Linked DNA regions of Homo sapiens. The protein of the gene in region 3 purifies or fractionates together with the protein of the main gene of each other region. This does not show direct contact. Each region holds a gene or a part of one and is shown on either strand. Other genes may lie near its edges.

Region 1 (3,500 bases), on a different chromosome or scaffold from region 3:
CTCAGGTCCTCAAACCTCTTTTACCCATTCCCTGGATAACTCGACCATTTCTTTAACTTCAGTGACCAAATCGCAGCCTTCTATCAAACTGCAGACCCTCACATTCAACCACCATCTCAATCTGGATGTCCCCTAGTGGCTTCACCGTTAGCACATCAAAACTGAACTTGTCATCACCCTGTCCCCACCTACCCCCCACCAAACCCCCTCCATCTCCTGGGTTCCCTATCTCAGGAAACAGTTGTCCAGACGAGGAATCTGATGGCTTCCTTGACTGCTCTCTATCCCTTTTATTCCACACCTAAGTTTTCACTGAACACTGAGACTTCTACCTTCTTAATTTCTTTGGAATCTTTCACTTCTTTATCAGGCTATGAGCCAAGCTGAGGCCACCATCATTTCTGGCCTGGATTGTTACAGCAACCTTTCAACGGTTTCCTGACCAGAGTCATGAACCTCTCAGTCTGTTTTCTTCATTCTCAATGTGTCCCTTCTAATGTTAAGTATGATCATTTCAGTTGCTTGCTGTAAAAGCCTCCTGTGGTTCCTAATGTCCTTGGATAAGGTCCCAACTTTTAGACTGACATCTGAGGTCTTTCATGAGCTAGCTATCACTTATTGTACCTGCCACAGTTCCCTCCTTCAACTTATTTTAGTCATATTAAATGTCTGGCAGATCACTAAATACGTTATCTTCATTCTCACTTCTGGGCATTTTTAAATATTCTTCTTTCTTGCTAGGGGTTTTTCAAACTACCTTGCCTCGATCTGCTAACCCCCACCTTTCAGCTGCCAGTTTAGATGACACTTCTCCAGGAAGCCCATCCTGATCCCAAGAAAGTGGCCTAACTACCACTCTGAGACCCAAATAGGTTACAAACCTCCTATAGTGACTAAGCCAGGAAATAGTCTTCCTGATAACAAAGCCCATTTGCTCTTCTGCAAATCCGTAACAGAGCTCTGTGTCTTAAAGAACCAGGCTGGACAATTCCCTTTTCTGACCCTTTGCTCATAATATGCCCAGTGTTTACCTTTCAATTAGTTCACAAGCATCTTTCTTTGAATATCTCTTTTTTTGGGGATCAAGATGATTTTGAAACCATTGCAGTTTTTCACCTATAAACAACAAGTACCAAGACAGTTTACCCCACAAGTCATCATTTAAGCAAGTAAATATTCATTATCATTTTCAACATTAACGTGTTTAAAACAGAACCAAAATTTATGTCAATGTTAAACATAAAGCCTTGTGTGGGCTCAAAGCTAATTAAACCAGTCTGTCACAAATTAAACTGTCAGATTTTAATTTAGAGAAGAAAGAGGAGTGGGAGGGATGCGCTTCTGTATATATTTCTTATCCAATATGGATGCAAAAAAGGAAAATGATTATTTAGTCGAGCTTGAACTTCTAAGTATTTAAAAGCAAAGGACAGCTTGTCAAAAATAATAAAATGAAAACTCCATTAATGATGAGAATGATATTTGCTGAGTATTTAATAAGCTGTAGGCACTATGTAAATAGCTTTATAATCCCATGAGAATTAGTACTATTATTACCCCCATTTGTAGATGAGAGATGTTAAATGACCTGTCCAGGGCCCCAAAGTTAGCAAATACATTAAGCATATAAGAGCTGCCAGGTACTGTGTAGAGTAATTGATATATATTACCAAAGAGCCAACAAAATTCACCCTTGTGAGTAAACCTGACCGTCAGGGTCACTTTCAGTTAGATTTCTCAAGATTACAGATCAAAAAAAATCACCCGGCCCTGTACAATGAGATCCCATTTAAAAATACTATTCTATTACCTGATGAAGCATTGATGGGAGTTCAAATACCTTTAATTTTAATAAAAGAGCCTAACAGTCAGTATTTAAATCTCAGATTTGTGAGTAAAAAATTATTAGCAATAAATCTGACCAAAAAAACAGTGACATGACACTGAGATACAAACTGAAGATGTGTATGTCCACATCATTAAATAAATATGAATTGTGGTTTCTACCTAGGCCATAATCCTTCATAATTCTAATGGTTAGGGAGGTAGAGTTAAACATCAGATAGATGGACAGATGGATATGAATGTTATGTGTAGACAGGTAGGTAGGTAGATAAATATAAACTAACAGTTTCTGGAAAACTGAGCTAGAAATCATTAACACTGTTTATTCCAAAAGTTTAATGATTGATTTGCTTTGTTTAGATCAAGTCTGATCAAATTCACTTTGATAAAAACAGTATTTCACTAAAAGAGTAAAAAGAAAAACAAGTATAGGGCAGAAATGCCCTATACTCTAGCCAGAGTTTCAAATAAGTAAACCCACTTACCAACAAGGTTGAGACGCAAGGCCTTTTCATTCTTCAATCTTTGAAGGAAAGGTAAATATATGTGTTAGAAAATTTCCAAAGCAAGTTTTAAAACTCTGACAATAACAACGAAAAGAAAAACTGCCTAAAGAACTCTAATTAAAAGGTCATTCTTTTACAAATTTGAGAATAATTTTGTTAACAGAAACATTAAATACTATGCTTCTCTTTTGAATCACTAGAATTTTATCAGAAACTTCCTTTAAGCACCTCAATGTCTAAAGGAAGCCTATAGAACAAACCAGTTTTGAAAACACAACTGAAAGCTTTTCTGAATTGTGAACATTCAGATGGGTTCTGTAATATGCAGAATACTTGAGCACAAGAGTAATGCAAACCTTCTGGAAGACTGAGTACTGCCACCAAGATCAAAATGCACTACTGTCATCTTTTAAATTTCAATAAGAACAAAACAGAATGGTTACTTTCAATGAATTTGAAAAGAATTATAACAAACAAAAATTTCATCTATGCTCAGAAAGTGTATAGGTAACACATGCCTCCTATTACTGATATTCTAAACACTTACTCATTCAGGAGACCTCTGGATACCAAGTCTTTGCCAGACTTTAGTTTCTGATAGCCCCAAAGGATACAGCCATGAACAAAAAAAATTCACTGTCCCTGTCCTGAAAAACCTTAAAATCTAAGGGCAATAAAAACATGGAGAAGCATACAGAGCTATAAAAGCATATTTAAAAAGCACCTACCATATGTTTTAGGATTTGGGAAGGTTTTCCAGAGAAGTAAATTTTAAGCTGAGACCTGAACATACAGAGAAGTTATTCAGGATTAAAAAAAAAAAAAGATAGGGACTACGGGAATGGTAAAAGAAAAATCTTAGCCATAGGAGAAGGCTTTGTATAAAGCAGGAAGTATACATGGCTTTTATCCACAAAGAAGTAAGCAAACCAGATTTATCCTCCCATTTTACACAACTAGAAAACTGGAGAAATAAAATGAAATCTTTTGTTATTATTATCATTATTATCATTAGAGACAGGGCCTCACTGTGTAGCTCGAGCAGGACTGCAGTAGTGCTGTCATTGCTCACCACAGCCTCAAACTCCTGGGCTCAAGCAACCATCCTGCCTCAGCCTCCCATGTAGTTAGGACTACTGTTATATACCA
Region 2 (3,500 bases), on a different chromosome or scaffold from region 3:
TTGTTCAATTTCATGGTTAAATTTACAGATAGAAAAGGTTTTCTTTATTATTTCTCTTTTGCCTTCTGAAATTGTTTTGCCTCAATTATAAAAAATAATCCATGATCATTGTAGAATATTAGAAAATATTAAAAATAGAAATCAAAATTTCCTATTTCTATCACGCAAAGACAAACGTTATGAACATTTTGGTACGTTTCTTTTTTTTTTTTTTTTTTTTTTTGAGACAGAGTCTCGCTCTGTTGCCCAGGCTGGAGTGCAGTGGCGTGATCTCGGCTCACTGCAAGCTCCGCCTCCCAGGTTCACGCCATTCTCCTGCCTCAGCCTCCTGAGTAGCTGGGACCACAGGCACCCGCCACCACGCCCGGCTAATTTTTTGTATTTTTAGTAGAGACAGGGTTTCGCCGTATTAGCCAGGATAGGATGGTTTTGATCTCCTGACCTCGTGATCTGCCCGCCTCGGCCTCCCAAAGTGCTGGGATTACAGGCGTGAGCCACCGCGGCTGGCCTGGTATGTTTCTTTCTAACTGCTCCTTAAATGGCATTTTTTTAAGTTGTGAACTAGATAAATAGTGAGCAGCCCCCATTTTATATAACAAATTAAACATGTCCCCATGTTTTAATAAATCTCCACATTTTCATGTATATGAGATATTTGATCTTTGCATCTTGTGGTTAAACTCACCATTTCTCATTTGGGTTTTCCCAGTTTTAAGATTTGAGTATCTTTAAGCATAACCTACTTATCTTCTTCTTAAGACCTTGTTGTTTCTAACTCTGCATCTTCACTTCTTTGGTGAGTTCAGATTCTGTGACTTTGTCCCTCAAGAAGCAAGATTTAGACCTACTTTGTCTGCTTTTTCTTTTATTTTAGAAATGCTGAGCCTGATGAACAGGACTTTGAGAAGAGCAATTCCCGAAAGCGCCCTCGGGATGCCCTGCAGAAGGAGGAGGAGATGGAGGGGGACTACCAAGAAACCTGGAAAGCCACGGGGAGCCGATCCTATAGCCCTGACCACAGGCAGAAGAAACATAGGAAACTCTCGGAGCTCGAGAGACCTCACAAAGTGTCTCACGGTCATGAGAGGAGAGATGAGAGAAAGAGGTGTCACAGAATGTCACCAACTTACTCTTCAGACCCTGAGTCTTCTGATTATGGCCATGTTCAATCCCCTCCATCTTGTACCAGTCCTCATCAGATGTACGTCGACCACTACAGATCCCTGGAGGAGGACCAGGAGCCCATTGTTTCACACCAGAAGCCTGGGAAAGGCCACAGCAATGCCTTTCAGGACAGACTCGGGGCCAGCCAAGAACGACACCTGGGTGAACCCCATGGGAAAGGGGTTGTGAGTCAAAACAAGGAGCACAAATCTTCCCACAAGGACAAACGCCCCGTGGATGCCAAGAGTGATGAGAAGGCCTCTGTGGTGAGCAGAGAGAAATCACACAAGGCCCTCTCCAAAGAGGAGAACCGAAGGCCACCCTCAGGGGACAATGCAAGGGAGAAACCGCCCTCTAGTGGCGTAAAGAAAGAGAAGGACAGAGAGGGCAGCAGCCTGAAGAAGAAGTGTTTGCCTCCCTCAGAGGCCGCTTCAGACAACCACCTGAAAAAGCCAAAGCACAGAGACCCAGAGAAAGCCAAATTGGACAAAAGCAAGCAAGGTCTGGACAGCTTTGACACAGGAAAAGGAGCAGGAGACCTGTTGCCCAAGGTAAAAGAGAAGGGTTCTAACAACCTAAAGACTCCAGAAGGGAAAGTCAAAACTAATTTGGATAGAAAGTCACTGGGCTCCCTCCCTAAAGTTGAGGAGACAGATATGGAGGATGAATTCGAGCAGCCAACCATGTCTTTTGAATCCTACCTCAGCTATGACCAGCCCCGGAAGAAAAAGAAAAAGATTGTGAAAACTTCAGCCACGGCACTTGGAGATAAAGGACTTAAAAAAAATGACTCTAAAAGCACTGGTAAAAACTTGGACTCAGTTCAGAAATTACCCAAGGTGAACAAAACCAAGTCAGAGAAGCCGGCTGGAGCTGATTTAGCCAAGCTGAGAAAGGTAACCCCTTCAGCCCCTTGGTGGCTTCCCACCCAGAGCACCTGGCCCTGCAGAGCTCAGAGGATTGCCCTGCCACTGTTTTCCTTAGCTTGCTTTTGGGGGGCATGTTGAATTTCAGTGTGCAGTAATTTCCTCTGGGCTTCACTGGTTGTCAGGGTATATGGTACCGCAAATAAGAATTTTCTGCATTATTCTCTTGTGATGGGCTCATCTGTATTTATTTCCTGACTGAGGTGGTGTCAGACATGACTGTGGCCCCCTCCAACCTGGATCTTCCTGTGCAAGATGTCCAGTTAATGCTCCCGGGAATAGACTGTAGGAAAGAGAGCTGTGCTTCTACTCACTGACTCTCCACCCATGGGTCTGTCCCCTGCAGGTGCCTGATGTGTTGCCAGTGTTGCCAGACCTCCCGTTACCCGCGATACAGGCCAATTACCGTCCACTGCCTTCCCTCGAGCTGATATCCTCCTTCCAGCCAAAGCGAAAAGGTAATTTTCTATATCTTCTTTTTCTTAATGGGAAAAAGATTTAAAAATTCATTCAAGGCAGGGTACAGTGGCTCACACCTATAATTCCAGCACTTTGGGAGGCCGAGGTAAGAGGATTGCTTGCGGCCAAGGGTTCTAAACCAACCAGGCGTGGTGGCTCACTCCTGTAATCCCAGCACTTTGGGAGGCCGAGGCGGGCAGATCACCTTAGGTAAGAAGTTCGAGATTAGCCTGGCCAACATGGTGAAACCCTGTCTCTACTAAAAATACAAAAATTAGCCAGGCATGGTGGTGCGTGCCTGTAATCCCAGCTACTCCGGAGGCTGAGGCAGGAGAATTGCTTGAACCTGGGAGGTGGAGGTTGCAGTGGGCCGAGATTACGCCATTGCACTCAAGCCTGGGTGACAAGAGGGAAACTCTATTTCAAAAAAAAGGAGTTCTAAACCACCCTGGTCAACACAGCAAGATGCTGTCTCTACAAGAGAAAAAAAGTAGCCAGGCATGGTGGCACATCCCAGGTACTCGGTAGGCTGAGGTGGGAGTATCACTTGAGCCCAGGAGTTCAAGGCTGCAGTGAGCTCTGATTGCATCACTGCACTCTAGCTTGGGTGACAGAGCAAGACTGTTTCAAAAACAAACAAAAAAACTATCACCATAACATCAGATTTTTGATGCATTTCCTAAGTGCATAGACTCTGAAGTTTGATGGCTTGGGTTTGAATCCCAACTCTGGTTTCTGCAAGTTATATGACCTTGAGAAATATCTTAATTTCTTTGGACCTTAGTTGTATATATTGTGTAAATGGGAGTTATAATGGTATCTGCCCCATAGGGCTCAGTTTAATGAATTCAGAAGTGATGCCTTTTTGCTCTGGGTTTATCACATAGTAATTGTTCAGTAAATTGCTGCTGCTGTTATTAGCAGCCCTTTATCCTATGTGTTACATAGGAT
Region 3 (3,500 bases):
AGAATGGCGTGAACCCGGGAGGCGGTGCTTGCAGTGAGCCGAGATGGCGCCGCTGTACTCCAGCCTGGGCAACAGAGCAAGACTCCATCTCAAAAAAAAAAAAAAAAAAAAAATATATATATATATATATATATATATATATATATATATATATCCATTAACTTGAATAAATGTCATAGCTATACAACTAATGTGGAGAGTAATTTGTACCAAGAAAAATTGAAGCCACTATAGTAAATATTGCACATAGTGAGAGGAGATCTTTTAAATGTATATAAAAAAAGATAGACTTTTTTTGAAGATTAAAGATGTGACAAAGTTCTCCACAATGTATTTACCAAGTATTAGATGGCTTCAAACATAGACTTTGCTTAAGATGTTTAAAGCATTAAAACTAAAGGGGAGTAAAGCAAGGTGACAGGACAGAGGAAAAGACCAGAGTCTCGGCCGGGCACGGTGGCTCACGCCTGTAATCCTGGCACTTTGGGAGGCTGAGGAGACCAGCCTGACCAGGTTAGAGAAACGTCGTCTCTACTGAAAATACAACATTAGCCAGGCGTGGTGGCGCAGGCCTGTGATCCCAGCTAATCTCTACCCGGGAGGCGGAGGTTGCAGTGAGCCGAGATCGGGCCATTGCACTCCAGCCTGGGCAACAAGAGTGAAACTCAGTCTCAAAAAAAAAACACAAGAACAAAACCAGAGTCTGTGGTCCCAGCACAGTGTCCAAGTGCTGGACTGAGTGGACAAAAAGAGATGCCCTCAAGTACTGGCTGACTCTTGGGCAAGTTGCCAAATAGCAGTGTTTGGTTCATATTCAGGAAGTTATAACTGCAAGTCTATATATCTCATAGAATAGCAGGAAAATCTGTTTTCAAAGTAAAAATATAAGCACTACAAACTTTAAAAACAAAAACCTTGGCCAGGCGCTGAGGCTCATGCCTGTAATCCCAGTGCTTCAGGAGGGTGAGGTGGGTGAATTGCTTGAAGCTGGGAGTTCGAGACCAGCCTGGCCAACATGGTGAAACCCTGTCTCTATTAAAAATACAAAAATTAGCTGGGCATGGTGGCACATGCCTGTAATTCCAGCATCTTGGGAGGCTGAGGCATGAGAATTGCTTGAGCCTGGGAGGCGGAGATTGCAGTGAGCCAAGATTAAACAGTGCACTGCACTTCGGGCTGGGTGACAGAGCAAGACTCTGTCTCAAAATAAGTAATTAAGTAAATAAATTAAAAAAATACAAAATAAAAACAAAAACCTTAGTAGCCAGTGATAAGCCATAGTTGCTATGTAATGTGCAGTTGGGATTCTAAAAGTACAGTCTGAAATATAGGGTATTCTTTCATTTTCTAGGTACGGCTTACACACTGTGTTTTTGTAAGACTGCTTTTGTGAACTGTAGCTTATTTAGTAAAATGTACCCATGGCTGTCACAGTTATTGGGAGATGCCTGTAATTATAGGTGAGCTTAGTTGGTCATATACTTTCTAGGATATAGGGAAAGCATGATTTAATAGTAACATCCTATTAAAAAGTAGACTGTGGGCAGTTGTAGTATCAGCAACTTTTTTCTTTGAAGTTTTCTAAACTTCCTGAATTCTCCTATGACGTTGATTTCTAGAAAAATGAAATTTACAAGTACCTGTAAAGTTTAATAGTGTGCTGTTGCAGATGTTGTGTTCCAGCTCTCTGCTTTGATTTTCTGTTGGTAGGCCAGAAGCGGACTCCTAGAAGAGGGGAGCAGCAAGGATGGAATGACAGCCGTGGGCCGGAGGGGATGCTCGAAAGAGCTGAGCGGAGATCCTACAGGGAATACCGACCCTATGAGACAGAGAGGCAGGCAGACTTCACAGCTGAGAAGTTTCCAGATGAAAAGTATGTGCTGCAGTCCTCAGCAGGGCGGGTGGGGAACCAGAAAGGTTTTGAGAAAATGCTACTTTCTTTTTCTTTTCTTTCTTTCTTTTTTTTTTTTTTTTGAGACAGTTTCGCTCTTGTCGCCCAGGCTGGAGTGCAATGGTGCGATCTCGGCTCACTGCAACCTCCGCTCCCGGGTTCAAGCAATTCTCCTGCCTCAGCCTCCCAAGTAGCTGGGATTACAGGCATGTGCCACCACGCCCGGCTAATTTTGTATTTTTAGTAGAGACGGGGTTTCTCCATGTTGGTCAGGCTAGTCTTGAACTCCCAACCTCAGGTGATCCACCTGCCTTGGCCTGCCAAAAGTGCTGGGATTACAGGAGTGAGCCACCATGCCCGGCCCAGAAAATACAACTTTCTACTGGCTACTGCTTTTTGTGGTACCAGTCCTAGGAATGTTTTACTAATTTATGTGCAATTCATGTTACCTTAGATGATGGGAAGGATCTTCCTTTTTCCTCATAGATGCCTTTACGTCTTGGTTCAGGAAATGATTGTACAATTAAAAATGAATTGCTTGTTGGTAACTGAAGAGCACTCTTAAAAAGAAATTACACAGGAGTGTGTTGAACTGGTTTTCTTTTGAAGTTCTAGATTAGAGATATAATTTTGGACTAGGGATATAATTATGGTTTTTGATTTCACATTACCAATTTAGACTGCTCAATGGATTGAAATAAATTCCTAGCTCCACGGTCAGGTCAGTAGGCTGCCATGATGAAATTTGAAGAAGAGTCTGTTATGATGTGTAATACCAATTTCTGGAGGGCATGGCTGCTCTCCGAAGTACTCTAACATGGACAGAAGTCGTGGGCTGGTGGAGTGTTGCGTCGCTGCTTAGTGATGTGGCAGCATGGTGGCCACCGCACTCCACCTCAACACGGGGAGGGGTTGTGTCTTATGTTTGGCACTTGCTGCTTAAAGTCTTTGTTTAATCATTAAACCTGTTTATGTTAAACAGAAACAAGTAGTGAATCACATTTCAAGGAAAATAAAGTTAAACAAGCTAAGGAAGACTAGAATAGTGAACAGTTATATGTCAAGGGAGCCATTTTTCCAAACTCTTTCTGCTTCTTGACTGCTAATTCCATTCCATTTAGGATTCTGGCTACAAGTTTTAACCAAAAAATGTGGCTTTGTAAAACTATACTATAGAGCCTATTAAAAACAAAACAAAACAAAAGTCCAGCAGAGAGTAACTTAGCCTGGGTGGGCTGAGCAGGTGATGACTCATGCAGAACTGTTCACCTGGAAGTTACACATTCAAGACATTGAGATAGTCTATCTGCAACCATGTTGGAGGGAGAAACTTACAGAAAGCCTTAATTTTGCACCTTTTTTGGTGATTACTTCAAATCTGCTGTGTAGTAAGCACAGTCTCCTTGTTTCTGCAAAGCTTCTTGTAGCAGAGCTGCTTATTTTTGGAAGCATTTGGGTATTTATTTTCCCCTCACTTTAGGGATTCTGTGGAAATGAGGAAATTATAGTTCACTTGCACAAACCCATGTTTCCCCCCTTTTTTAGTAGCAAGACTGTGTAGTCTTTAAAAAGGATAAAATAGATCTTTATATGTGACATGAAAAAATAG
Region 4 (3,500 bases), about 94 Mb from region 3:
AATAATTTTACATGATGGATGATTTGTGAATGTTTATCTTGAACCTCTGGAAGAAGAGAAATAGAATAATTAACTTATAATTAGCCACCAGTATTAAGAGGGTGGAGACTGGGGAGGGACAGGTGAGTAAACTGATAGAGGGTCAGTGGGTTAGAAAATGTCAACATGGGAGAATTTCCTAAATTAAGTGGAATTAGTACTTGTCTTGACCAATCTTTTTGAGTGTATTAATGTGCTAGAATATGATAATCAACAACAAAAAGTGTAATATATGCAGTTGACAAAATTTTCAAAAATGTATTCCTAGCTGTAGTTTCCAGCTGTTTAATTCTTTTAGGATATAGTTAAAATACTTGTGATTAAGTCCCATCTTCAAAAGGAATCTTAGAATATGATTTTCTATTTCCTTGAATCTTTTATCTTTTTTCCTGCCCTACTGTTTTTTTCGAGCAGAACAGTTTAATAGGAAATGACATTTATTGAGCATTTACTATGTGCTGGCCACAGCTTCTCAATGCATGCTAGCTCATTTACTCCTCAGAGTGACACAGATTGATGAGTTGGTCTTGGGAGAAGTAAGTTGTGTTTTATTGTCACCCAGCTTTCTCCTTCTATCATTTATTTTTCCATGATTGTGTTGCGTTTAGAAGTAAACCACAGATTGCAGAGATAATCAGAAGTTTTAAAGGCCACGTGAGGAAGATGCTGCGGCATGCGGAAGCATCAGCCATCGTGGAGTACGCATACAATGACAAAGCCATTTTGGAGCAGAGGAACATGCTGACGGAAGAGCTCTATGGGAACACATTTCAGCTTTACAAGGTGACATCTCCAGAAGTCTTTTTCTAGTATTTTTACTTTTCGATATGCTCTTCCTTAACTTCCGGTGCCCTATATATCTTTTGAATGTATTTTTACTGTGGCTGGTTCTTTAAGAGACCATCTTATGCCCTTGATTTTCCCTCATGCTTTATTTTGTTTCTGGTATAGTGAGCAAGTTTCTCTTTCTCCAGAGCATTGGCTTTAAATCCCCTTCAATTCAAACTTTGTTCCTCTCCTGAGTGCTCTGTGTGTAGCACTTCAATACTTCTATTTTTACAGTCATACTGAAGGACAAGACTCCCAATAGTTAGCAAAGTTGTGTGACCACCCCCAACCAGCTCTGGCTGAAGTGTATTGGGCTCTCTGTTGCTAGCTTCTCCTGTGTTTTTTCATGTGCATGCATTGCCCTTCTTCAGATTGTGTCTGGAGATGAAGGGGAACAGAGAGACCTAACCTTGGATAGAGTACAGGGATTGAATCTGAGAATAGTTAGCAGTGGGACTAGCTGGTTAAAGAATCTATTTCAAACCTTGGAACATAAATGCACACATGTGTCTGAAGGGATATGGATTGATTCCCGGGTTGCCTCCATTAGCCAGGTTCAATTCTTGGGTTGAATTTGTTGCTGTACTAATTTTGTTAACAGTTCGTTATATTTAATAGGAATAGCCAACTAATTATAAAACATATGGTGGCAAGAATTTGTGAAGTGACTACTTGATCTCATAATTGGGCAAGAGCTAGGTGCTTGGCAAGTAACTGTTAGCTGGTTAACTTGGTTGGCCTGGCTCTTTAAATGCACTGATAGATACACAGACTGAGAATCAGCTAATCAGGTTACTCCACAAGGATATACAGCAGAGCTTTCATTATGTAAATATGGGAAATCTTAAATTTGTTAAAACTTATTTTAAAATGACTAATTACTTTTCTTTTTCCTGAAGTGAAAAAATTGATTAAATTTAGAGGGGTTTGATTGTTTTGTTTTGTTGCAGTCAGCAGATCACCGAACTCTGGACAAAGTGTTAGAGGTACAGCCAGAAAAATTAGAACTTATTATGGATGAAATGAAACAGATTCTAACTCCAATGGCCCAAAAGTAAGAAAGTTGTTTTTGTTTTGTTCTTAAGAAATGACATTCAAAGGAGGAAGGTTTTCCATAACTGTTGCCCAGAAGAGGTAGCTATTTCCTGCTTACAAGTATTAATCTATTCTAAATAAGAGTGCAAAAGTGTTGGTTTGAAACCATTCTTGGTGCAAAAGGAGATTTCTTTTTCTGATATTGTACCCTATAAAATGATAACTAACATGCATTCGTGATTTATGAGCTTTTTTAAGCAATGAAACATTCTTTCCCCAAATAAAATGTTACATGGAAGCCATGTATACTAAACAGTTTCACAAATATAATCTGTTACTCAAATTTGGTTGTAGGCAAGGTACAGTGGCTCACGCCTATAATTCTAGCACTTTGGGGAACCAAGCTGGGAGAATCACTTGAGGCCAGGAGTTCAAGACCATCTGGGGCAATAGCAAGACCCCATCTCTACGAAAAAATAAGAAAATTAGCCAGGCTTTATGGCATGTGTGTATAGTCTTGGCTACTTGGGAGGCTGAGAGGCAGGAGGCTCACTGGAGCCCAGGAGGTCATGGCTGCAGTGAGCCATGGTTGTGCCACTGCATTCCAGCCTAGGCAACAGAGTGAGACCTTGCTTTAAAAAAATAAAAAAAAATTAAAAAATGGATTGTAAGACTTGGAAGCCTGTGCATGTGCCCTTCATGGCATCTGTCCAGTAGTGGAGTGGCTGAGCATAGCTTTTGGGACCCGACTGCCTGGGTACGACTCCTGGTTCCCCACTCCCCCAACTATTACTAACTGCAATCTTTGGCAACTTAACCTCCCTGTGCCTCAATTACCATATTTGTAAAATTGGGATAATAATAGTACAGACTTCATAGGAATTTTGTGAAGATTAAATGGGTTGGTTGTTCCAAAACACTCAGAACAGTGCTTTGCCCATAAAGGCAGTGTTAGTTTTTGCTGTCTACTTGGGTATCACCTGTGAACTTTAGGTCTTTTATGCCTGACCATCGGCCTCCACTGTACACCTGGATCCACCAAGTGTCACACTAGGGGGTTTGGATTAAGTAGGTGTTGTTGCAATTGCTGACAATGTTTGGTTCATTCAAGTTTTAATTCTGCTAAAATTATTTTGTGAAACAGATGGATTGTGAAGGGTGTTAACAGAAATAAAACAACTATTAAAAAAATACATCCACATGTGGATTTCTAATCATTATGTCCAGTGCTGGGGGAAAAAATGTAGATGTCCTTATTTAATAGAGCAGAGCATATTTCAAATGTTGATTTTATGTTTGCCGATTAAATACTAGAAGTTTATACTCTGGTCTTGGTTGTAGATGGCACTAAATCAATTTTACCATCTAAATTTTTGTTTAAGTTTTAGTATTTCTGAAAAATACAGTCTATTTTATGACAAATTGTATTCAGTAAAACCATTTCACTTGTTTAGATTACTTTAGGACTTTGAGATTACCTGTCTTTGTATGACTGTAGTGCCAGATCTGTTGTGTCTTTTTGCTTTTTTTTTCTGTTTTCAGGGAAGCTGTGATTAAGCACTCATTGGTGCATAAAGTATTCTTGGACTTTTTTACCT
Region 5 (2,331 bases), on a different chromosome or scaffold from region 3:
GTTTTTAGTAGAGACAGGGTTTCACCGTGTTAGCCAGGATGGTCTGAATCTCCTGACCTTGTGATCTGCCCATCTTGGCCTCCCAAAGTGCTGGGATTACAGGCATGAGCCACCGCGCCCGGCAGGTCTGCCCACGTTTCTCTGTGTAGCTCCACTGGGCTTCTTTCGGCAGCTGTGCAATGGAGTCTGTGGGTGATCAGAGGAGAATTCATTCAACCAGCCACCTAGGGGTGGACATTAGGTTGTTTCTGCTTTCCTTTTTCAGCTGTGCTGCAGTGGACATCTGTGACAGGTGCCATTGGGCTGGGGGGTCACGTCCCCGGGGATGCCGGGCCGGGCATTCTACATCCTCTTCAGCTGCTGTCGTTGGGGTGCTTCCAGCCAGCCTGGTCTTCCCTTCCTGTGGCTTTGGGAGGGGAAATGAGCATGGGTCACCTGCCTGCCACTGTCTGCCTCCTGCCTCCTCTGAGGCCTCCCTTTGTCCTCAGCCCAGGTGACCTTCAGAAAGACATTGGAGAAGGAAGCAAAGGGAGAGGAGCCCGACATCGCAGTCCCCAAGTTCAAACAGAGGAAGGGGGAGTCTGACGGGGCCTATATCCACCGCATGCAGCAAGAGGCCCAGCATGTGCTGTTCCTCAGCAAGAACCAGGCCATCCGGCAGCCAGAGGTGCAGGCAGCTCCCAAGGAGAAGTCTGAGCAGAAAAAAGCAAAAAAAGCGTGAGTGGAGGCGGGAGGGGGAGGGGTCTGCCCTGGGAGCCGGAGGGAAGACATTGGGTTCCCATGACGGCCCTCTGCAGGTACCCTGTTTCATAGCCATGGGGCAGCCTGGATTCAGGGAGACCAAGCCAGAGCCCTGGGAGTTGGCGAGTCGGAGCATCCAGCTGGGAGCCAGTGAGGGTGTGGCCTCCAGGAGGCTGCGGAACCTGGGAACTCTGCGGAGACCTCGCTTGGTCCTTGCTTTCACAGGAAAAGCACCAGAAAGCCCTAGCCCTGTGGGAATCAGCCCTGAGGGGGTCGGTCTGAGGGTGACGTGCCCAGGGGTTCTGTTTCCATTAGAACAGAATGTCTCTCGTCCAAGAGACTACACCTTCCTAATTCTCTAAAAGCTTTGGCCGAGTACAGTGGCTCACGCCTGTAATCCCAGCACTTTGGGAGGCTGAGGCAGGTGGATCACGAGGTCAGGAGATCGAGACCATCCTAGCCAACACGGTGAAACCTTGTCTCTAATAAAATACAAAAAAAAAAATTAGCCGGGCGTGGTGGTGCATGCCTGTAATTCCAGATACTTGGGAGCCTGAGGCAGTGGAATCGCTTGAATCCGGGAGGCAGAGGTTGCAGTGAGCTGAGATCGTGCCGCTGCACTCCAGCCTGGTGACAGAGCGAGACTCCATCTCAAAAAAAAGAAAAAAAAAAAAAAGCTTTGAAGGTTTGAGAGGTTGCTTTCAGCTCTGTAGATTCCCTGTTTCTGGATTGTTGTATTACTTATAGTTACCTTAGCCAGTGAAAGTTCATCACAGAGAACGTGGCCCAGATACAGCCTGGCGCCACGGTGATCTCCAGAGCTGTCGCTGAAGGTGAAGCTTCCAGATTCACATTGAGGGAGACGTGATATACAATGCTTGTTAGGCCCTTTAGACACAGCAGCACCGGATGGGCTGGATGAGTCTCTGTTGGGTGGTCTTTGGCAGCCTTCCCAGCCTTCGTGCACAAGGTGCCAGTAGCCCTTGCCCACGTGTCTGCACACATTGTCAGATGTTCCCTGGCAGGTAGCTGTCCCCAGCTGAGAACCACTGGGGGACCTGTGAGGGGCCTGTTGGGGTCAGAGCCTTCTTTGGTGGGCAGCTGTGGGTTTTGGGGTGGTAAGGGGAGCGGGGACTTGGAGGCAGCCACCTGTTCTTGGGTCCCTGCTCTGCCACAGGGGATCCCTTGTGGGTGGGGCGGCCTCTGCCTCCTCCCTGGGTGGAAAGAGAATTTAGGAATCTGAGTGACATGTGCTTTCTTCCCCAGGTTCCAGAAGCGGCGACTAGATAAAGTCCGACGGAAAAAGGAGGAAAAGGCGGCAGACAGGCTGGAGCAGGAGTTGCTCCGAGGTAGCTCTTCCCAAAGCGATGGTGTCAGCAGTGGTCCGGGTGGGGCCTGGGCGCAGGCCTTCTGTTCCCCACCAGCCCTGGCTGCACTGGGCACCTGTGGTTTCCCCTGGGGTCCACAGCCATTAGACCACTGGATGAGTTGGTGTTCTGTCCCAGCCCTATGGGAGGGAGGTGGGCGGGTGGTGGCTCTGGGTGTCAGGGGTGCAGTGGCTGTGGGCAGCAGTCCTCAGTTGTATTCTGC
Region 6 (4,281 bases), on a different chromosome or scaffold from region 3:
AGCACCCTCATCTAAAAAGGCTGCACAGCCCCTTCATGCCCTCTCTGCTTCTCCTGAAGTAGCCTTTGAGCCTCAGGCCTTATATGAGCCAAATAATATACTACAATGTGTATGTCTGAGCCATAACCCATGGTAAAGAGGGCACAAGCAGCCTGCCTCCTGCTGCTTAACAGGAAGGGCAGGACCCAAGTGACTGAGAATATGGCACTGTGGATAGAAAGCGCAGTGCTTTCCATCTACATGCCAAAGTCTTCTACCTGCAGTTGGCATCTGGAAGCCCACAAGACATATACCTCATATACCTCCATGCCCTCCACCCACAGGCCAGTGGCTTCCAGGATAACAAAAGAATTCTGTTCTATCTTGTCTTAGCTATATTGAATATTTGGGAATGAAAACTGCCTGCAAGACTCATCTTCATCAACAAAGCACCATCACCATTACCACTACGAGGAGTATTAGCACCGTCATTTTGCAAATGTCTGCCAATAACATTGAAGTGTCAACCATTTACTTGGGTAAGCCATTTGGCAATCAGACCCCATTCTCTAACCACTCCTGTGTGACCTTGGACAAAGAATTTAACCACTCTGAGTTTCAGTTTTTCAATCTATAAAACGGAGCTAATACTACCTGCATCCTAAGGCCACTGTAAAGAGCAAATATAATAACATGTAAAGCATCTAGTCCACAGCTCAATAAATGTGAAACTACAAGGTTTTCTTCACCCAATCATTCCCAGAAAAACCTTGTTGGATGAAACTAGCCACCACTATTCACTAAGTGTTTCTCCCTTTGGAAGCTCTCGGAGCCTTAGGTCTCCACATTTTCTATCGTAAGGACATGAACCTTTCGCTTCTAATCTGTTCCTCCGGAATCAATCTATTCAACCCAACCCTTCTCTCCCTCCACACCATCACTTTTTCTTTTTGATATCATCGATATTAATATACATATGATTTTTTTTAATTGTAAGGAGGACTTCCCCAGCTATGTGATGAAATAACACTTCTAGGAATATTAAATGAGCTGGTCAAGAAATGAAGGTACTACCGTCTTTGCAACTCTGCCCTGCAATTTCCTATCATGTTTCTTCAGCACCTTGACCATGTGTTGACATCCAGTTTGTTTGCTCTTGAGTCAGGTCCATAATCTTGTAACTTCCTGAGTTGACTCATCAGAGCTTGTAATTGTAACCTGGATGTTTCCTGGGTCTTTTACATCGTCCTGGCCATCCCTCTCTCTAAGTTTGGCCATCCTCATTATGGCCTTACAGGCACAAGACAGGACCAACTTTGACAGGCTAGCTGGCTTCCAAGTGCTCACCTGAGACTACAATGGCAAAGAGCAGTTGAAAATAACTTGCTTAGGTTGCAGGGAAAGTTCCTCCCCAGTTTAGGACCAAGTTTCATGCAAATTTGCCGCCATAAACTATAAAAAGTCACAAACATTTTCAAAGCTGGATAAAATGTCTATCGTAACTATCCTACAAATGTAAGTGGTGGTATTGGTGTTCTATCTTTCACCCACTGCTATTTAATCTGCACAGGAAATTAGGAACTATCTCGTTCACTTCAAACATTTACTGAGTCTCTAGTATGCATCAGGCACTATTAGGTGTCTTCTTAAATATTTCTAATTTTTACAACCCATCTGTACTTTCTTAAGATGAGGTGGTTGGAGAACTGAAAGGTTAAGAAACTTTCCCAACGTCACAGAGCCTTTCGATGGTAGGGCAGGAAAGGGAACCCAGCCCTGTCTGACTCCCAAGTTGGCATTCTTTCCCTAAGGAACGTTAAGCACCTTCAAAACACCAGTCACATCTTGTATTTACTTTTCTATTCTTCACAATGTCAAGCCGTTGGCGAGGCCTTAATTCCTGCCTACCTTCTCGACAGCTCAAAAAACACGGTTTTAAACGTCCTTCACTGCTCCACTCATACAAGATGAGCTTCCACTCACAGGATAGCGAGACTAAGGAGCCTGACCATCTTTCCATTTTGTTTCGGGTGGCCTCGAAAAGTAGACATTCTCGGACATGCTCCTCCCCAGCTGAGCGACTACTTTCTGTTTCCTTTCCCGAGTCTGGGAAGAGACGCGGCGGCCACCCTGCCCTGGCCTCCGACTACCTGTCTTCATGAGCGTCTCGGCCCCCTGCCCGGGCCCCCTCGCCCCTCTGCTGTCCCGCGCGGTCCAGGGAGAGGAGACTCTCGGTCTCCGAATCCCCTCAAGTGGGGACCCGAAGAACGGGGAGGGGCACTGAGCGGGGACAGGGAACGCGCGGAGCGCAGCTGGCATCGGGCGCCCCCGTTCCACGTGGCAGAGCCGAGGGGTTACGATCTCGGCGGGAGACGGGAGGGCGGGAGGCTGGGTTGGCGACGCGGGGGAGCCAAGGTGGGTGCGGGGACCATGGGGACGGCCCCTCGCGCCGCGAACCCCCGCACGTCCCGGAGACTAGCAGGTGGGCGGGCTCGGCCCCTTCTTCCCGTTCCGCGCTCCCCGCGGACAGGGCGGCCGCTGGCCCCGCCGTCGCCCGGGAGACTGCTCGGCCAGCCGCCCGCTCCCCTCAGCGCCCGCCGCCGCCGCCCGGGCCTACCTTGCTGGTGAGGTCCAGCTCTGGCTCGCCGTTGAGCGCCTCGCCGTCCTCGCTGCAGTCCGAGTCAAAGCCGCCGTGGAGTCGGGCGGCGGCCGCCGCGGCCCTGGCCGCCCCCGGGGAGCTGGGCTCGGGGGCGAACATAGAGGCCGGGACCGGCGAGTCCATCGCGGAGCGACTGCGCTCCGTCGCCATCTTTAATAACTTAGGCTAATTCGTAGCCGGCTTCCCTCCCTCCCAGGCTCATTTGACTAATCTATGCACAGAGCCCCGCCCCGCTCCTTATCGGAATAATTTATGCAAAACTCCAGCCGCGTACTGGGTGACACGTACCTCTAGCTAAGAAACAGTCGACTAGGCCTCTCAGCCACCAATCCCTGCAGAGCTTTCAAGTACCTAATGAATAATTAATGAGGCCCAAATCCCAACAACAAATGTCTGAGACGTCACGCGCCCTGCTCCCAGCTTGGGAGGGGGCAGTACCGAGTCCCCGCTACCCGCCTGAAGCCTTCCCGCCAACGGAAGCAGAGAAGTGTCTGACTGACACAGCAGCCATCCAATGAGGAGAGAAATACAAACAACGTTACTCGTCAACGCCCCTTCACTCTCCTTGTTTCCAGAGGCGGTACTAAGCCTGCAAATCTTACTGCAAAACAGTAGGCGCTGTAAGCCTTCCGATGACGGACAAGGGCAGGACCCAATCGAGTCATAGAACAGGTCCCGCGCCTGGACCTGCTCATGGAGATAGTAAACTGCAAAATGAGCCTCCCACTCGATTCAGTGACTGAGGCAGTTGCTGGAACGCCGATGTCCAACGTGCTGGCATGCTCCAGGCAACTTTAATAGTAGGATCGATGCTGTAAGTTCCAAGAGTTGTAATACTATAGCAGCCAGAGTGAGGCAATAATTAAATGCTGACCTTAGGGAGAATTCTCCATTCACTGCCTTTGCGGAGGCAATCACACGAACTAAAAACAGAGGCAAGCAGCTAAAATTAAAAGCCAAAAAACACCTCACCACTTTTGTGGTGAACTGCTAAACCGAAATCTAGGGTCTCATAAGGTAGTTTCCTATGGATTATTTTTCCAGTGTCATCAGTTGTGAAAAGCCCCAACCCAAAATGCCATCAACACACGTTTTAGTGTCTTGAATTCCTGTTTCAAAAGCCGGAAAAGCCTAGGCCGTCATTGTTTGGCGAAATTAGGGATTAACCAACGTCTATGAATGTCGGCCTTGGCCACTCGAACCAGGCATCAAGCAAACAAGAGCATGTTTGAGAAGATAAGGAATCCAAGACTTAGGGTTTGGACCTAAACCCTAAATCTTTAGTGAGCAAGTGGCAGGATTGAAAATGGCTTTCAGTTTTGGGGATCTACCTGAGAAGAAAGAGACAGTCTCTTCTTGTCCCTGTTTTCCACTACTATCAAGTCTTATTTGCACAAACACAGCTGGGAATCTTGGACAGGAAGTCATCTGATTCCAATGGTCTTGATACTGTTCTTATGTGCTTTTTAATTTCTTCCTTGCCAAATTGCTCACCTCCATCCTATATGGGCCGGGAGCAATGGCTCACACTTGTAATCCCAGCACTTTGGGAGGCTGAGACGGGTAGATCACCTGAGGTTAGTAGTTTGAGACCAGCCTGGCCAACATGGTGAAACGCTGTCTCTACCAAAAATTAGCTGGGC
Region 7 (3,500 bases), on a different chromosome or scaffold from region 3:
GACAAGAGGAGTCCATCAAAGGTAGTGGTTTAGGAGACTTTATGTCCAGCCATTAAATAGAGAACAATAAACCTCACTTCTCCTTCACCTCGATAAATGATTTTATGTGACTGTTTCTGGTTCCTGGCATTCATTTGGAGAGTTGAAATTTCCCACCTGAGTTGCCCACCAAGGTCACCAGCCTGTGTTTTGCACTAGGAAGTAGATAGAGGGAAATGGCAGGATTGTTGCAAGCTCACATGGGGAGCTTGGCGGCCCGGCTGTAGCCGGGGGCTGGCCAAAGCATTAGTCCTCAGCAGGTTTTTCAGTAACAAGTTTTGCTTTTTGTCTCCGCGTATCTATAAAAACACAAATACCCAAGAAATGTAAAACAACAATAGGTTGTTTCTGGATTTTTCTCTACATTTTCTTTGTGAGAAACATACTGTGTTGTGGCACCCTTGCTGCTTTTTTTTTTTCTTCTTTGAGAGGGAGTTTTGCTCTTGTTGCCCAGGCTGGAGTACAGTGGCACGATCTCAGCTCACTGCAACCTCCGCTTCCCGGGTTTAAGTGATTCTCCTGCCTCAGCCTCCCAAGTAGCTGGGACTACAGGCACCTGCCACCAAGCCCTGCTAATTTTTGTGTTTTTAGTAGAGATGGGGATTTCACCATGTTGGCCAGGCTGGTCTCAAACTCCTGACCTCAGGTGATCCACCTGCCTCAGCCTCCCGAAGTGCAGGCATGAGCCACCGCACCCGGCCCAGAATAATTTTTGTAATGACGGTATTATTTGGTAAGCAGCAAAACTTTGAATTTGCCGTCTGAAGGATTTAAATGTAATCTATGCAATTGAGTCAGATTCTGCATAGATACTAAAGTAAATGAAAGTTGGGCTTCTTCAGTTCCTTGTGGGCCCAAATCTCTTTCCTGTTTGGTGAGTGCAGCACAGTGTTTCCTGCCGCAAGCTGGTGGAGCTTTGAGTGGGCCATCATGGTACATGAACGGCTGCTGCTGGTGGCTGGAGAACACGTCGCATTTGGGGATGTCATCTGAAGTTTCTAGGCATATTCTCCTAGTGACTGTCGCATTAATGAAAACTGAGCTATCAAGAGTCTTTCATTGGGTAATCTTTCCTTCATTTGTGGTAGTTTAAAGATCTTTTACCTAGTGTCTTCTCAGTTGCTCCTCATCTGCATAATAAACAGATTGATGAGCCAGGAGACCCTTAATAGGCAAAATATAAATAAATGTAAACTTTGGCCTACCCTGTCAGAATTAGCGAAAATAATGAAGTTTAGAATAGTGAGGTTTTATTGTAGCATTATAATTTCTGACTGGCGGGTTAAAATTGTTTTGAATATTGTTTCAGGGGAATGTGAGGTTTGAAGAAACAGAATGTTTGCCACTAGGTGAGGTAAACTATGCATTTTTGTTTTATCTTTTTGCTTAGAAGTCAGAGCTCTTTTCCTGGAGGTGCGATGTTATGAAAATAGAAACTTAATTATGGTTGTATGTCATATTTTAAAGTGTCTTGGAGATTAATTACTCAGAAACTAGTCTCAAGTTTTTGGAACTGAAAATCTTTAGGTGGGAGCTGGGCACTGTGGCTCACGCCAGTGGTGTCCCAGCTACTCAGGTTGAGGCAGAAGGATCGTTTGAACCTATGAGGTAGAGGCTGCAGTGAGCCCTGATCATGCAGCTGTACCACAACCTGGAAGTGGGCACGCTTGAGTTAATGACTTCAAGCAGATTTTAGAGTAGTAAAAGTTGAGCATACAGATTTGCAGTGGTTGCAAACCCATGCATTGTAATAGTTGCAGTTAGGCTTTTTAAAGTAACAGAGCTGACCTTTTGGGAAGATATTTTTATTTGGTTTTTAAGAAATTTCACTTTTGGCTGCTTACTGTTTTGGTGAGTTGGGGAATCTGAGGGAAGATTAACAGGTAGTTACAGAACCCTTGTGGAAGGAAATGTTTAAAGTCTCTTCTGATGTCTGAAGCATAGGTATGTATTACTGCTTTGCACATATCCAGTGTACTCCTAAACTGGTAGAAATGGCATGTTGCCACAGTTCTTTGTGTTTCATGGACTCCTGAGGGGGAAGTCCTTGAAGCCCTTTCTGGGGCTAAGAGGTAAAGATGACTTCTGCATAATAATAGTCTAATAGTACAGGCCTTTTCTGGTGAGTTTGACATTTGCATCGGTGGCACAGGGCAGATTGGAGCCCTCTTCAGCACCGTGCATGGGCACCGAATGTTTAGAATATGCCAATTTTCCCAAATAATGTCCCTGATGATGCAGTAAATATTAATTTTTTTCGGAACCCGCAAACATACATCTTTTTTACTTTCGCTGTGATTAAATGTCAAGTTATATATAAAGCTTCTGCTGCATCCCCACGTGGTACTGTCCACGCACAGCCCTAGGGGATTGAGCTGGGAGCCGAGTGGTCTCGGAAACGCTGTCTGTCCCTGACAGAACAACAGACGGAGGACAGTTTTCAGACTCAGCATGTGGCAGGCGTTTTGTCCAAAACGAGTGATGTCTCAAAGAAAAAACGAACAGTATTTGTTGCTAAGGATAAAATTTGAGCTTTGGGGTGAAAATTGGAATTTTAGAAAACTTGTATCTGCCATTGTAAACCTGATGGCTTTCTAGTAATTAAAGTCTTCTTGGAGATTGGACCCGACATTATCGGCCAGGTGAGGTGACTCACACTTGTAATCCCAGCACTTTGGAAGGCGGAGGTGGGTAGATCACTTGATCCCAGGAGTTTGAGACCAGCTTGGGCAACATAGTAAGACCCTGTCTCTACAAAAAAAAATGCAAAAATTACCTGGGCATGGTGGCATGCACCTGTAGTCCCAGCTACTGGGGAGGGTGAGGTGGGAAGACCGCTTTGAGCCTGGCGGTGGTGTGGGTGGGGGAGGTGCTGAGGCTGCAGTGATCCTTGATTGCACCACTGCACTCCATCCTGGGCAACAGGAAAAAAAATGTTTGTTTTATGCTATCCGATGAGATGTGTGGACATTGAGAATCTGTCTGTTACTTGAACCCGTGTCATCCAGGTGAACAGCATGCACATGGGTCCAGAGTGCAAGGACGTGTTCAGAGTGAACACAGCAGTCAGTTTTCATGAAAGAAAGGGAGAAGTTCCTTGACAAAGGCTGCAAATTCTGTTTCAGCTAACTTTTATGAAACTGCTCCTTGGCGAGAGTTGGTGTAGTATCAGTGAACATCCAGTTATGTGAAGATGGTTACAATACTCCATTCTAAAGACCTATCTGTGTGAGGCAAGATTTTGATGACATGTTTTAGCTGAAACACTCTATGGGAACAGATTGAGGGCAGAAGTAGACATGAACATGGAGCTGTCTTCGGTTATGCCAGAAATTTGCAAAAATGTACAACAGGGCCACTCTTCCTGTTCATTTTTGTTTGTTTTAGAAATAACTTTCATTTAAAGATACTATTAATGTATTAATAGGTTTATTTTTAATACATACTTAGAATTTTGAAAA

Evidence for each region.
Region 1: the proteins of HABP4 (region 3) and TMA16 purify together in Homo sapiens (affinity purification with mass spectrometry, with the first as the bait; one large-scale study listed by BioGRID). This does not show direct contact.
Region 2: the proteins of HABP4 (region 3) and ELOA purify together in Homo sapiens (affinity purification with mass spectrometry, with the first as the bait; one large-scale study listed by BioGRID). This does not show direct contact.
Region 4: the proteins of HABP4 (region 3) and PUM3 purify together in Homo sapiens (affinity purification with mass spectrometry, with the first as the bait; one large-scale study listed by BioGRID). This does not show direct contact.
Region 5: the proteins of HABP4 (region 3) and CCDC137 purify together in Homo sapiens (affinity purification with mass spectrometry, with the first as the bait; one large-scale study listed by BioGRID). This does not show direct contact.
Region 6: the proteins of HABP4 (region 3) and GTPBP1 purify together in Homo sapiens (affinity purification with mass spectrometry, with the first as the bait; one large-scale study listed by BioGRID). This does not show direct contact.
Region 7: the proteins of HABP4 (region 3) and DIDO1 purify together in Homo sapiens (affinity purification with mass spectrometry, with the first as the bait; one large-scale study listed by BioGRID). This does not show direct contact.

What each region holds. Positions count from the first base shown.
Region 1 is NC_000004.12:163,511,690-163,515,189, reverse strand, and holds part of TMA16 (translation machinery-associated protein 16), read right to left. Parts: intron 2,369-3,500; coding exon 2,331-2,368; intron 1,117-2,330; coding exon 1,032-1,116; intron 1-1,031. UniProt on the Homo sapiens protein: Involved in the biogenesis of the 60S ribosomal subunit in the nucleus.
Region 2 is NC_000001.11:23,749,971-23,753,470, forward strand, and holds part of ELOA (elongin-A), read left to right. Parts: intron 1-874; coding exon 875-2,060; intron 2,061-2,436; coding exon 2,437-2,548; intron 2,549-3,500. UniProt on the Homo sapiens protein: SIII, also known as elongin, is a general transcription elongation factor that increases the RNA polymerase II transcription elongation past template-encoded arresting sites.
Region 3 is NC_000009.12:96,456,669-96,460,168, forward strand, and holds part of HABP4 (intracellular hyaluronan-binding protein 4), read left to right. Parts: intron 1-1,710; coding exon 1,711-1,873; intron 1,874-3,500. UniProt on the Homo sapiens protein: Ribosome-binding protein that promotes ribosome hibernation, a process during which ribosomes are stabilized in an inactive state and preserved from proteasomal degradation.
Region 4 is NC_000009.12:2,827,096-2,830,595, reverse strand, and holds part of PUM3 (pumilio homolog 3), read left to right. Parts: intron 1-647; coding exon 648-822; intron 823-1,817; coding exon 1,818-1,921; intron 1,922-3,444; coding exon 3,445-3,500. UniProt on the Homo sapiens protein: Inhibits the poly(ADP-ribosyl)ation activity of PARP1 and the degradation of PARP1 by CASP3 following genotoxic stress. Binds to double-stranded RNA or DNA without sequence specificity. Involved in development of the eye and of primordial germ cells.
Region 5 is NC_000017.11:81,669,737-81,672,067, forward strand, and holds part of CCDC137 (coiled-coil domain-containing protein 137), read left to right. Parts: intron 1-488; coding exon 489-717; intron 718-2,007; coding exon 2,008-2,090; intron 2,091-2,331.
Region 6 is NC_000022.11:38,704,463-38,708,743, reverse strand, and holds the start of GTPBP1 (GTP-binding protein 1), read right to left. Parts: upstream 2,801-4,281; 5' UTR 2,789-2,800; coding exon 2,597-2,788; intron 1-2,596. UniProt on the Homo sapiens protein: Promotes degradation of target mRNA species. Plays a role in the regulation of circadian mRNA stability. Binds GTP and has GTPase activity.
Region 7 is NC_000020.11:62,916,506-62,920,005, reverse strand, and holds part of DIDO1 (death-inducer obliterator 1), read left to right. Parts: intron 1-3,500. UniProt on the Homo sapiens protein: Putative transcription factor, weakly pro-apoptotic when overexpressed. Tumor suppressor. Required for early embryonic stem cell development.